4 linked regions of the Homo sapiens genome follow. The protein of the gene in region 3 purifies or fractionates together with the protein of the main gene of each other region. This does not show direct contact. Each region holds a gene or a part of one and is shown on either strand. Other genes may lie near its edges.

The links.
Region 1: the proteins of CEP43 (region 3) and PPP2CB purify together in Homo sapiens (affinity purification with mass spectrometry; 6 studies listed by BioGRID and IntAct, with this or other methods). This does not show direct contact.
Region 2: the proteins of CEP43 (region 3) and CEP290 purify together in Homo sapiens (co-immunoprecipitation; 2 studies listed by BioGRID and IntAct, with this or other methods). This does not show direct contact.
Region 4: the proteins of CEP43 (region 3) and POTEI purify together in Homo sapiens (affinity purification with mass spectrometry; 3 studies listed by BioGRID and IntAct, with this or other methods). This does not show direct contact.

The regions. Positions count from the first base shown.
Region 1 is NC_000008.11:30,792,319-30,795,818, reverse strand, and holds part of PPP2CB (serine/threonine-protein phosphatase 2A catalytic subunit beta isoform), read left to right. Parts: intron 1-1,537; coding exon 1,538-1,627; intron 1,628-1,740; coding exon 1,741-1,902; intron 1,903-3,500.
Region 2 is NC_000012.12:88,135,589-88,139,088, forward strand, and holds part of CEP290 (centrosomal protein of 290 kDa), read right to left. Parts: intron 1,199-3,500; coding exon 1,055-1,198; intron 1-1,054. UniProt on the Homo sapiens protein: Involved in early and late steps in cilia formation. Its association with CCP110 is required for inhibition of primary cilia formation by CCP110.
Region 3 is NC_000006.12:167,026,897-167,030,396, reverse strand, and holds part of CEP43 (centrosomal protein 43), read right to left. Parts: intron 1-3,500. UniProt on the Homo sapiens protein: Required for anchoring microtubules to the centrosomes. Required for ciliation.
Region 4 is NC_000002.12:130,474,829-130,478,328, forward strand, and holds part of POTEI (POTE ankyrin domain family member I), read right to left. Parts: intron 1,874-3,500; coding exon 1,803-1,873; intron 124-1,802; coding exon 79-123; intron 1-78.

The DNA.
Region 1 (3,500 bases), on a different chromosome or scaffold from region 3:
TAGTGCACTAAGTTTGAAAAGCTGAATGAAGCTTACTATAGTAAAATACCAGTTATTAAAATTGGCTTGCAGAAATTCGTCCAATATAAGTAAACAACCAATAGCAACCAGGTGTAAATAGTTTTATAGGCTAATTCTACCAAACCTTTAAGGAACATATAATTTCTGTGTTCTAGAACTTGGGAAAAGATGGAGAGTTCAAAACTCACACCGTATGCCTAGTATAACCTCAATGCCAAACCAGACGTGGCACGCACAGAAAAATAAAATCAGACCAAAGTCATTTGGAAAAAAAATTCCTATATTTATGATTCAAAACTCAGTTATTTTATAAAATAATAATATTAAGTGGATAAAGAAACGCCAGTTGTACTATCAGCTAAACATTAGAAACCTTCTCATCAGGCCAGGTGAGGTGGCTCATGCCTGTAATCCCAGCACTTTGGGAGGCCAAGGCGGGCGGATCACCTGAGGTTGGGAGTTCAAGACCAGCCTGGCCAACATGGAGAAACCCTGTCTCTACTAAAAATACAAAATTAGCCAGGCATGGTGGCACATGTCTGTAAACCCAGCTACTCAGGAGGCTCAGGCAGGAGAATTGCTTGAACCCGGAAGGCGGAGGTTGCGGTGAGCCGAGATCACGCCATTGCACTGGGCAACAAGAGCGAAACTCCGTCTCAAAAAAAAAAAAAAAAAAAATCAAAATCAGAAAGAAAATGCTTGTTAAAACTTACGTTATTCTCTCTGATTCAGAATACCTAGAGCATGGACTTGAAACTAGGTAGTTTACAAAAAACAAAACAGAAAACATTTGTATTATTCCATTTTATTTTAGAAGTCCTGGCCAATGCACTAAGCAATAAAAAGAATTAAAACGTATAAACATTGAGAAGAAAAAACAAAAATAGTTTTGCAAATGACTTGATTATGTACTTAGAAAATATGAAGGAACTGAAAATTTATTGTAGCCAGTAACAGGAATCAGAGTGTTTGCTGTAAGAGAAACAAAAAATTGTATATATCAGCAATAACCAACAGAAGCTGTAATGACAGCTGGGTACAGTGGCATGCACCTGTAATCCTAGCTTCCCAGGAGGCTGAGGCAGGAGGATTGCTTGGGCCCAGGAGTTCATGGCTGCATTGCGCAGTGATCAAGGCTGTGAATAGCTACTGCTCTCCATCCTCAGCAGCACAGCAAGACTCCATCTCTACAGAAAGAAAAGAAAGGAGGGAAGTGGGGAGGGAGAAAAAAAAGAAAGAAAGAAATTTAATGGTAGGTACCAAGGATGGGGATACCATTGACCAGAGAAAAGGAAGGGAGGGAGGGAGGGGAAAAAAAAAAAAAGAAATTTAATGGTGGGTCCCCAAGGATGGGGATACCATTGACCAGAGAAGGGGTAAAGAAGAAAAAATGATGGACAAAATATGTTTAAATGTTGGCACTATTTGGACTGACACTTTTAACCATTATTTACTCTTTGTTAACTGTTTGGAGTTAGTAAAACAAATACATTCTCTTTTGTTAATTCATACATAGATATTCTGCCTCCATGGTGGCCTCTCTCCATCCATAGACACACTGGATCATATAAGAGCCCTGGATCGTTTACAGGAAGTTCCACATGAGGTAAACTTAATTTAAAAAAGAAGAAGAAAGGAAAAGAAAATATAACCACATTTTGAGGATGATAAAGTATGACTGATAATAATTTGTAACATGTACTTATTTTTCTTGGCCAGGGCCCAATGTGTGATCTGTTATGGTCAGATCCAGATGATCGTGGTGGATGGGGTATTTCACCACGTGGTGCTGGCTACACATTTGGACAAGACATTTCTGAAACCTTTAACCATGCCAATGGTCTCACACTGGTTTCTCGTGCCCACCAGCTTGTAATGGAGGTATGTACTTTCCTGACAGAATGATCTTTATTTCAGATTAGTATATACTTCTGTAATAAGGCATTATGACTTAACTAAGAAACATTCCTCACCATTTATTACCTAGGTGAAAAGAGGAAAAACTTGCTGGTTTTAGCAAGTAGGGAAAGCACTAGTAGACCAGAGCAGAATTATAACTCATTTTTGAAATTGAGACTTAGAAAAAAGTTACAAAAATAGTACCCCATAATTCCCTGTATGCTTCATTCAGATTCCTGACTGTAAATATTTTACTATATTTGCTTTATCATTTTGTGTCTCTCTTCCTCTTCACCCCTCACACTTTCTTCTGAACCATTTGAATATCTGTTGCAGACAGATACTCCTTTACTACCAACTTTCTATGTGTATTTTGTAAAATTAAGGACACACTGTCACATAACCACCGTATAGTTATCACAGTTGGGAAATTTGTGTTCATATAGTACTGTTATTTAATATGAACACTTTATTCAAATTTTGCTAATTGTCTCACTAATGTCTTTAATAGCAAAATTTAATTTTTTGTGCATACTGTATGTGCATAGTCGAATCCAAAGATTAGGTTGTATTCATTCTACTTTGATGTGGAAATCCTCCGATTTTCATTGTTTTCCACATTCTTGACATTTTGGAAGAGTAGGAGCATTTTATCTTACAGAAATATCCCTCAGTTGGGGTTTGCCTGATGTTTTCCTTGCAGTTAGGGATTCAATGTATGCATTTTTGGCAGTCATGACATAGAAAGATGGTGTGTCCTCCTCCGTGCATTGTATCAAGTGGTCCTAAAATCTGCTTGTCTCAATGCTGGTGGTGGCAACTTTAATTGCTTAGTTAAGATGATGTCTGCCAGATTTCTCCACTATAATATTAACTGTTATACAACTACTAAGGGAACATAAACAACATAATCCCTGCAGACCAGTAGGGAGTGGCTTCAAGATGTTTAGAGAAAACTTCGCCAGCCCAGTAGAAACAAGGGAGCATGATAAAAAAAACACAAATTTACATAGTAAAAATAAATTTAATTATATCAGTGATTATAAGAAAGAGACTAAAATTTTAGCCTGAAAGAGACTCTTAGATTGGATAAATAATCAAAATTTAGCTGTTATTTGGGATGTACCTAAAACATAAATGATTGGCTGGACAAAGTGGCTCATGCCTATAATCCCAGCACTTTGGGAGGCCGAGGTGGGAGGATCTCTTGAGTCTTGGAGTTTCAGACCAGCCTGGGCAACATAGTGAGACCTCATCTCTATATAAAAAAAAAAAAAAAGTCAAAAAGTTAGCTGGGCATGGTGGCATATGTCTATTGTCCCAGCTACTCAGGAGGCTGAGGTGAGAGGGTCACTTGAGGCCAGGAGGTTGAGGCTGCAGTGAGCTATGATCGTACCGCTGCACTCCAGCCTGGGCAAAAGGGTGAGACCTTGTCTCAAAAAAACGAGGAAAAAGAAAAAGACACCACAAACTAGAGGTAAGAGTTGGAAAATGGTATATTGGTATATCAAGTAATTAATCAAAATATCAAAAATATAGCTAATGAGCTGGCGTGGTGGCTCGTGCCTCTATTCCCAGCA
Region 2 (3,500 bases), on a different chromosome or scaffold from region 3:
GTTTTCATAGCTAACTTCTATATGATTCTTCAACATTTTAGAGTAAAATACATACATGAAGAATGGGGATACTTTTCCTTACAAATCAATTTATGATACATTCTCTTAAATAGCATATCATTGTTTTCTTAAAATGTATGACCCTCAATTTCTGAGAGAACAATGGACAAAATAAAATAAATGGAATATAACACAACAATGACCTAAAGGACACAAAGGTGGAAAACGTTTCTGAGTATAAGGGACAGGACAGTTACCACATGTAGGCACCAAATTTTACTAAGTTTACTAACAGTTCAGGTGAAATAAAAAACAAATAAATGTTAAGTAAATAAATAAATAATACATTAAATAGGAAGCTGAGGTAAAATAGGAAATTTTCTTCCAGGAAATACAAGTTGATCTGCAAAAAACTTTTTTCCTAAAACTAAATTCAAGTGAACACTGCAAGAATTATTAGTTTATAACAAGGAATAACGAGGTAATAAAAACTATGCATTAAAAATGTTATTTTAAATATGTGATTTATAAACTGCTGACATGAACACAACTTTTCAAAAACTATACATATATATATATATCTCACATAAAATAAGGTACAACCAAAAACAAGATATTTAATTAACCATTATTGAATATATCGAAAGATTCATTTGCGAATCTACTAATCATATAAATACATTGAAATGAACAAATATAACTTTTACCCAAAATAAACTATGGCACTAGAAAGATCACTTCTTTATGAAAATCTATTAGTTACTTGATACCAATCTTCCAGACAAAAGCATTAATTTTAGGTAACAAGTTTGATGTCCTGAGAAAAATGTACTTCCAAATATAAAGAATTAATCTTCAAGTCATATTCACTAGAAGTACCATTATATTTTAAAATTGGTGATGACAAAATGAACAGTGATATAAAACCTTAGAGATAAGTGTACATCATTTTTCAAATATAACATACAATATAAAAATTGATATTGTTACCAATAATAATAAAAAGCCAGGTAACTTGAACAGTGAAGATTCATGGAAAAAAAAAGTGCTTTACTTGCTCATTAACTTTCTTCTCTTTCTCCAACTCCTTTTCCATGTCCTCCAATTCTCTATCTTTTTGTTCTAATTGTTTTTCAAGTTGGCAAATTTCATTACGTAAAAACCGAGTATCTCGTCCACCTGCAGACTGCTGAGCCATCTTAAAGTAATAAACCCAAAGTATAAATTAATCCCATTATATTTTGAGGTTCAAATGAGTCAACAACAAGCAAATAATTATGCTGAATTTAAATTTGCATTATACTTCAGTGCAGATATTTAAAATCATATTAGCTTAAGAACTTTTTTTTTTTTAATTTAACTTACTTAAGGTTAGTTCACAGCTAATAACTCCTTAAATTTTTCCTGAGCCACCCAGAGATGCAAAGAATTGACTGTTAATCATTCTGTTGTAACCACTGGGCCACAGGTAACCAGACTAAACTGCAAAGGTTCCTGAGCCTCAGGGATCTGGAACCTGAGTACAAACCATCAGAATCTCCACCCCAGTCAGTGAAGCTGAGTGCCTTAACCTGCCCTTTCTCTCATACCATGCACTGTTTAGACCAGTGCTGTCCCATAGGACTTTCTAGCATAATGGACATGCTGTCAGTGCTGTCCAGTTCAATAGCCACTCGCTACATGTAGCTATGTTCGGGCATTTGAAGTGTGGCTAGTGCAACTGAAGAACTAAATTTTTCATTTTAATTTTAACCAATGTAAATATAAATAGCTACAAGTGGTTAGTGCTAGTGCTACCATATTAAACAGCTCAGGTTTTGGTTATCTTAAGATTTGTAGCCGATTAAATCCATTTTACCTCACAGTCTTGTTAATTCAGGTCATGGCCAAGAACATCAAATCATTTGGTCATCTAATGTGTCTCACATTCATTTCTTCACCTTATAGTTCTGTTATTCCTCTACCTTAACCAAATTGTTCTTACTCTTTCTCTCCTCCAAAAAGCATTCCATTGTGCTCTCTAAAATTCTCTTCCAAGATAAATTAATATTTCACATCCTCAGATTCTTTACTGAATCCTCCTTTCCATCTCCTTGGCTTAGCTGCAATTTGGATCCTTTAGTATACTAATGCCCTTGGAACTCTTTCAATTGGAAGGTGCTCATTCTTTCAGATTCCAAATACATGAGGGTCAGAAGAAGGTGTTGGTGCTTCTAGGTTTACCCCACCCTGCAACTTCAGGTGATCATTCCTATCATTCCTCCATCATCCTATAGAAACTTCAGCTGCTTTCTCACAAAATATCCTGCTCTCCATCTTTACCTACTCATGGTAGAAACAAGCCACCAACCTTCCAGTAACTCCGCAAAATGCACTGGGAATTTAAGCATGTGGCCCACAGATGTCTATCAAATGCCCACTAAGCAATCTCCACATAACTTTTGTTCTAGTCTATTTTTTTCTTGAATTCACTATAGTCTCTCACTCCCACACCCACATCAGATCCTTGTCCAACCAGAACATTCTTTCAATTATTCCCACTATGCCTGTCCTTCGACCTCACAGGACACTCTAACCCCTCATCTTCTCCCTCCATATCCCTACCCTTCTGCCCACCCAACCCCAATCTTGATTTTATCTATTCAGTTAAGACTTCATAATCATCACTTCAACCACTTTCCTACCAATATCTTCAACTGTGCTACCCTTCTATTCTACAGCAGCTACCTAGCTAAACACTAACACAGAACTGATCCAACTCCATAATTCATTTAGTATTTATTGAAAGTGCTTGGCATTTTCCCAGGAGCTGGATATACAATCAAAAACAATAGGTCATCCAAGTTCAGAGAGTTAACGAGTAGAAGAATCAGGACTAGAACTCAAATCTGTCTGACTCCAGATCCCCAACTCTCCAGTCCTGTCTCCAATATATTTCAAATTTTACCTAATTTCCTTAAAATGTGACCACACCATTTCCCACTCTTTTTAACAGAAGATGTCATCACCAACCCCTCAACTTCCAAGCATTATGCCTACAAACATAAAAGCCTCTATACACATCCACTCTTCCCACGCTCATCCACTCATCCTCCTCTCCTAACACAAAGGAAAAGGGTATTCCTCCTTTCAAAGGCTGATCCATTTGTATCACATTCCTACCTTCTCAGGAATCTCAATGTATTTTGTTCTTCAACAATACATTCATATTTTAGCCTTCAGCTTTGTCAAAAATTACTTCTATAACACCCTTTCGTCACTATTCCTCAAATCCCCACCCACCCTCCACCTCAGTTACTAGTAATCTTTCTGTATATTTCCCAAGACTATAAGCTCCATCCAGCAGTTAACTTCTTATTTTGTTCACAACCATATGCTCAGTCCTTAGTACTATATAAGGCACATAATAGGCATGTAGAACATATACAGAATAAACAAATAACCATGATTACAATCATCCTTATAATTTTTCCAGCCAACAATAATTTTAAAATTTGAAA
Region 3 (3,500 bases):
TCTGATTAAACAAACTACATATGTGGCTGGTTTGCAAGCGCTAAGTAAAACCAGGAGTGGCAGCTACTAAAATGTCAGCCTCCAAGGACCCATTGTAGTGTTCCTATGTGTGAAGGCCAGTGAGGAGAGCAGAGGTGGACACTGAGCTGAGACAGCGAGGACGGCTGTGGCTGCAATGTGGATTTAAAGAAAGCTAACTGGATTCCCCACCTGGCAGCATTTGTAGCCAATTCAAAACACAAGATTGTCAGGCCTCTGAGCCCAAGCTAAGCCATCATATCCCCAGTGTCCTGCACGTGTACATCCAGATGGCCTGAAGCAATTGAAGATCCACAAAAGAAGTGAAAATAGCCTTAACTGATGACATTCCACCATTGTGATTTGTTTCTGCCCTACCCTAACTGATCAATGTACTTTGTAATCTCCCCCACCCTTAAGAAGGTTCTTTATAATCTCCCCCATGCTTAAGAAGGTTCTTTGTAGTTCTCCCCACCCTTGAGAATGTACTTTGTAAGATCCAACCCCTTCCCTCAAAACATTGCTCTTAACTCCACCACCTATCCCAAAACCTGTAAGAACTAATGATAATCCACAACCCTTTGCTGACTCTCTTTTCGGACTCAGCCTGCCTGCACCCAGGTGAAATAAACAGCCATGTTGCTCACACAAAGACTGTTTGGTGGTCTCTTCAGACAGACACATGAGACAAAGATATTTACTGAATAATGTGCTATAACACATCAGATTCTGACTTCTTGGTTATGTATTGTTTAGTATTACAATAATTTAAGCCAGTGTCAAAATGATTAACAGAATACATACAGGTTAAGCATCCCAAATTCAAAAATTTGAAAACCAAACTTGAATAAAATCCAGAACTTTCTGAGTGGGGACGTAATGCTCAGAGAAACTGCTCATTGGAGCATTTCGGACTTTCAGATTTTCAGATTTGGGATGCTCATCTGGTAAGAAAAATGCAAACATTTCAAAATCCAAAAAAATCCAGACTCTGAAATACTTCTGGTCCCAAGCATTTGCATTAAGGGATACTCAACCTGTACTACATTACTTTAAGGGTCAGCAAATTTTGGCCCTCAGGCCAAGGATTCTTGTTTTCTTCATTTTTTGACAGTCTCTCCTCCCCATCCCATACCCTCTGTCTTATCTGCCCTTACCCCAGTCATCTTTGGCCCGGACTTCCTGACAGCCTTCTGCTTTCCTTACTTTCATTCTTGCCTCTGGCTGATGACCTGCTTTTGTTCAGCCTGTGAACTAAGAATGGCTTTTACATTTTTAAAGATTGTTAAAAAACAAAAAAACAAAAAAACACACAAAGACTATGTGAGAGACAGTACATGCCATCCACAAACCCTAAAATATAGACTATTTGGCCCTTTACGGAAAAAGCTTAGCAACTCTTGCTTTAAATATGCAAAGTACCTATCTATAAACACTCCTTTTGGGCACCTTTAATTAATATTTGTCTGCCAAACTAAAATAGATGGTGCTCTAAAGCTTTATTTGTAGATTATTTATTTGGAACTCAGAATTTATGTTCCCATTGAAATGATTATTTCAATATGTCTAAATAACATACAGGCAGTAAAACACAGTGGTGAGGGCTCTGTGTGATGCATCAGGACTCTAAAAGCAGCATGACCTTGGGCAAGTTACTTAACCTAGATTCTTCATCTGTAAAAATGGAGATAGTAATAAAACCTACCTCATAGGATATGAATTAAATAAAATAATTCCTTGGTACAGTGCCAGGCACTTACCACTAACATCATTATTCTCCTAGGCTGGTCCACTAACATCTGTCTACATATTACTCAAAATACCTAGAGTACTGTATATTTAAAATGTAAACAACCCAAACAGAAAACAACATTGTTGCAAAACGAAATAAAACTTTATTTCTACTGAATCCTAATGCCTAGCTAAATGACAAACATCCAGCTAGTGAACTGGTAGTTCTCACCTGCATAACTACCCCAATTCCAACCCGAGATATGCCTAAGTCCCAAGACAAAGTGAAGTGAAGGAGCACACCACCCTCCTGCCTGTACCCAGCAACTCTGCAGCCCCAGCAACGACATTCCCTCCTGAGGATGACAATTCTCGGCAGCTCCCCACTCAGAAACAGGAGGGAAAACCCTCGCTTTGGTAAGAGAATAGAGCAGTCAGAGAAAAAAGCTAAAAGGTTTGGCAACAGAGTGAAACACCACAAAAGTGAAAAAAACAGAACACAAAGGGGACAAGGCGGCCATCACGGTGCAGAGGTCAGGAGTAAAGTCTCTGGTGGCAGTTAGCCACTGAGATTTAGTGGAAAAGAACATCTAATGGCAACCATGACCACAGCTGACAGGAAAAGCACAAGGGAGGGAAAGGAGGCAGGCCCACCTAGCTGGCCAGCCAGCAACCAGGACGCACAAAGAGCAGATGGCAGCACAACCAGCAACTCAGTTACCAGGACTCCAGGGCACTGTGCGGAACAAGAATCCGGGCAGCTCAGGGAACATTTATTCTTCTGCAAATGGGGGGAAAAGTAACGTAAAAAGAAAACTAACATTTACTAGGCACCTACCATGCCAGCCACTGTACTTTAATTTACATATGAAGAGATATTTAAATCCTATTTACTCTTTAAAACAAGGCAGATGTTATTAGTTCCACTTAACAGATGAGGAAATAGCAGTTTAGTTTATCTCCCTACGCTACCCATCAATCAGTGCCACATCTGAGATGTCACTTCTATCCAACTCCAAGCCCAAGTTCTTTGCACTATCCAGAATGTCTCTCCAGAAGAGGGAAGGGCATTCTCGGAGCTGCCCCTTGGACAGGGCTGGGTTTTAAAAGCAAATGGGGACACACCTTTCTTTCTCCCTAACCTGCCTGTGAAGCTCTTCCAATGCTTCCATGTGAGTGATTACAGACCAGGAAGGGATCCCATCACATCCACAGAGAGCATAGGAAGTGGCCATTGAGAACCTGGCTGCACCGTTTCCTTCAGGTCACCAAGTTTGCCTTTACATAAATGAGTTTGCCTAAAGTATGCCTGTCACACTGCTACAGTCTTGCACAGAACAGAACACTGAATGAGAAATGTGCTCTCAACATATGGCCCAGGGCTCGGTAATGTTCACATCGACACTCTTACTTCCATAGGAATGAATGTACTTACATGGCAGGCTTACCAACTTCTGCTCCATAGAACAGAACTGAACACATCTCACAATTTTTCTTTCAATAAGTCTGTTTCCCCACTAGACTGAATTCTCTGAGGCCTGGACCATGTACTACCAGCATCTAGCAAATGGCTCTGCCTCTGCCCAAATTTTTCTCAGTCTGAACTGAAATATCTTCCCTTCTCTCTTATACATGTACTTAACCATGAAGCTTCTGCACAGAAGTCACTTCTTATAAGAAGTCTTCCCTGAATGCCAAGACTGGACAAAGGTAACCTACTAGCCATTTCTATACCCATATATACTGACCCT
Region 4 (3,500 bases), on a different chromosome or scaffold from region 3:
CCTACATTTACTACACTTTGTTAAACAACATAATGTAAAAATCTAATTCAACACAAACATTTGAATATAAAGGTATACCTCTCTATCACCATCCTTATTTATTTCTGGTTCTTGAGATCTTTTCTGCAGATGTAAAAACAGAAGGTTAATTTGCTTGTTGTATTTCTGTGACATTTCCTCTTTTGGAGTGCATGTTTTTAAAATAATTTTATTCTGAAGTAATCAAGTATGGACAATAAAAATTAGAAAGTAATTAAAATTAAACTGTTTAAATAAATAATAATTAAAATTAAGAATTAACTTTTTAATCTATGTTTAGCTACTGCCACATCACTGGCTTCTAACATGTGAAAAATAATTCACCTTAGACAAAGGGAGAAGAAAAACATGAACCAGCAAACTTAACTTTCTCACTATTTGTTTGGACTAAACTTAATTTGTTATGTGTTAAATCTACCAAAAATGAATCAGCAGATGATTTGTAGTGTTCCAAAATCTTCCTCACTTGAAAAGAGTTTACCTCATGAAACCCTAACTAGTGAGCCCCTACAGTGCACTGAAGTGCTTTTTTAAAAGATTCCTAACTGGATTGTAGGCACCCTTTAAACTATTAGGAGCCGAAATCAACACCAAACAGAAAGAAATGCAAATTCTCACATTTTAATTGAAATTATATACTGTCATATGATAGTGTTATGTATCCAGATTATCTGCGTAAGTCCAGTTCTAATATATTCTAATGTGTACTAATGACAGCAGATAGAATTTTTTAATCTGTACTGATTTTCTGCAACTGAAATAAATTAGAATGTTATTGTGTTTGTGCACTAACACCAAAGGTCCCATTCTGCAAGATATGGTTCTTGTAATAGGCAGTTGGGTTGCTTTTATGACCTGGTTCCCTCCCTGAACAGAAACACTGAGGTCAACGAGAGACCACAAGGCAGGATATGTCCTTAACCTTGGTATCAGTGACTGACAATATAAAACTGTGGATTTTCAATCACAGGCCATGATTACTCTTTAACCATGAATCCAGCTCAGGGAATCAGTGTTACATTGTTCATAATTCCTATTGCTTAATAATATGATTCAATCATTGATGTTACTTTCTTTATCATGTTAGGGTGTTGTAAAAATAAAAGAACAAACAAAGTTCTGAAATTTGTTTTTGCCTCTATTCCAAAAGGAGAGATTAGCTATAAGCTAATCAAGAAGGCAGATAAGAATATTTTAAAATAAGAGTATTTTAAATTTTATAGTGGGTTATGTTGAAGTTAAATATCAAATATTAAATTAGAATCTATTGATTCTTCTGTTAAGAAGGTTGCTGATTTTATTACAATAAATTTTAAGAACCTATTAAAATATATATATATATTTTTTTCAGATGGAGTCTTGCTCTGTCACCCAGGCTGGAGTGTAGTGGTGGATGTCGGCTCACTGCAAGCTCCCTCTCCTGGGTTCATGCCATTCTCCTGCCTCAGCCTCCCGAGTAGCTGGGACTACAGGCACCCGCCACCACGCCCAGCTAAGTTTTTGTATTTTTACTAGAGACGGGGTTTCACCATGTTAGCCAGGATGGTCTCGATCTCCAGACCTCGTGATCCACCTGCCTCAGCCTCTCAAAGTGCTGGGATTACAGGCGTGAGCCACCTTGCCTGGCCAAAAGATTCTTAAAAAAACAATCTACTGATTCTCAAAGCCTAGTCTGAAAGGTAATTTCATTTGGACTATCTACTATTATTAAGGCAAAAAACACACAACATTAAACAAAAGTTTAAATTTAAAAGTTTCCATGCCTCTGGCTGGCCATTTTCACTGCCTTTAAGCCTTTGTGACTCTTCCTCTGATGTCAGCTTTAAGTCTTGTTCTGTTGAAAAATCCATATATTCAGTTAAAATCAACCACTTAGAACAGTTAAAAACTATTGCCTTTTAAAAACGGATTTGAGACATTTCATTTTATTTCATAAATTGAGTGTTTCATCTTTTGTGAAATTGTCATTTAAGAAATAATTCTCAAAAACTTCAAAAACCCACTTGGGGAGATACCAGATGTCACCAGATTGAAGACAAACAAACATGTCAAAAATTCCCTCACAAATTCATCCACCCAACATCCATGAACAAAACCACCAGAAACACAGCTTTAAAATACAGTAGAAACATATAAGGTGACACAGTGTACTGTTCTCCACTTCCTAATAGTACCTTATAAATGATTTCCAAAATCACTGCTGACACCTTTATTAGTGTACAACGTCTTCCTAATATCTAAAATGTTTCCCTCCACTATTCTGACAAATTTATTTTCTTTTTTTCTTTTTTCTTTTTTTTTTTTTATGAACCAGGGTCTTCCTCTGTCACCAGGCTGGAATGCAGTGGCATGATCAGCTCACTGCAACCTCCGCCTCCCTGGTTCAAGTGATTCTCCTGCTTCAGTCTCCTGAGTAACTGTGATTACAGGCAAGCACCACCACACCCAGCTGATTTTTGTATTTTTAGTAGAGATGGGGTTTCACCATTGGACAGGATGGTCTCGATCTCCTGACCTCGTGATCCCCTCTGAAAGTGCTGGGATTACAGGTGTGAGCCACCACACCTGGCCTTATTTTCATCTTTTGAAACAATGCTATGTGAAGTCTTCCTTGATTTTGCATGTCTTTCCCCAAATAAACAGGTACCTCCTTCCTTGAGGCTGCCTTAGTACTTTACTGATTTTTCTACTGCATCTTGACCACCTAAACTGTACATTATTCCTCCACATGTCTGTCCCCTCTGCTCCAAGACTGCAGGGGAGAGTCTTGCACATCATCTTTGTAAAAACAGTCTTTGTTTTACTCAGAAATATTTTATTGAGTCCTGCTAAATACATGCTAGGCATTAGGGTTTAAAAAGAATTAAAATAAAGCCTGTCAGAGATGGCTTTTCTAGAACACATGCCCAAGCAGAGACTTAAATATTGAGACTAGCCAGATTAAAAGGGGTAGAGGGCAGGAAAGGGTGACGGCATACCATGCAGCAGCAAGAGCGGGAGCGAGGCCTGAAAGAGTGAAAGTATTTGCCTACAATAGAAGGATGAGTGAGTAGGGCATTGCCAGCAGCTCAGTAATGCCAGAGACAGTGCACACAGGGAAAAGGGCTAAAGATGGAGAGTGGGGCAGAAGTCAGATTATGAAAGCCTTATGTGTAATTTTAAGATGCTTGGACATTAATGTTCAAAAGTGGTCCCGGGTCCTATCTGCATTTAGATATAGATCATTTCAATGCCAAAACCAATATTCCTAGTGAACAATTATTCATTAAGACAAGGTGACAGATAGCTCATGTGGACACAGCTGAGATGATACAATGTAGCAAATACTAAACAATTCTCATGAACACTTGGAAAGTCAGTTCTATAATAAAGTCATACAAATTATACTAAATCAGTAAATATTTGGTTTGGGAAGATGCTTTGTAAAGTTATAGTGCATATGAATACAATTAACAGTCGTG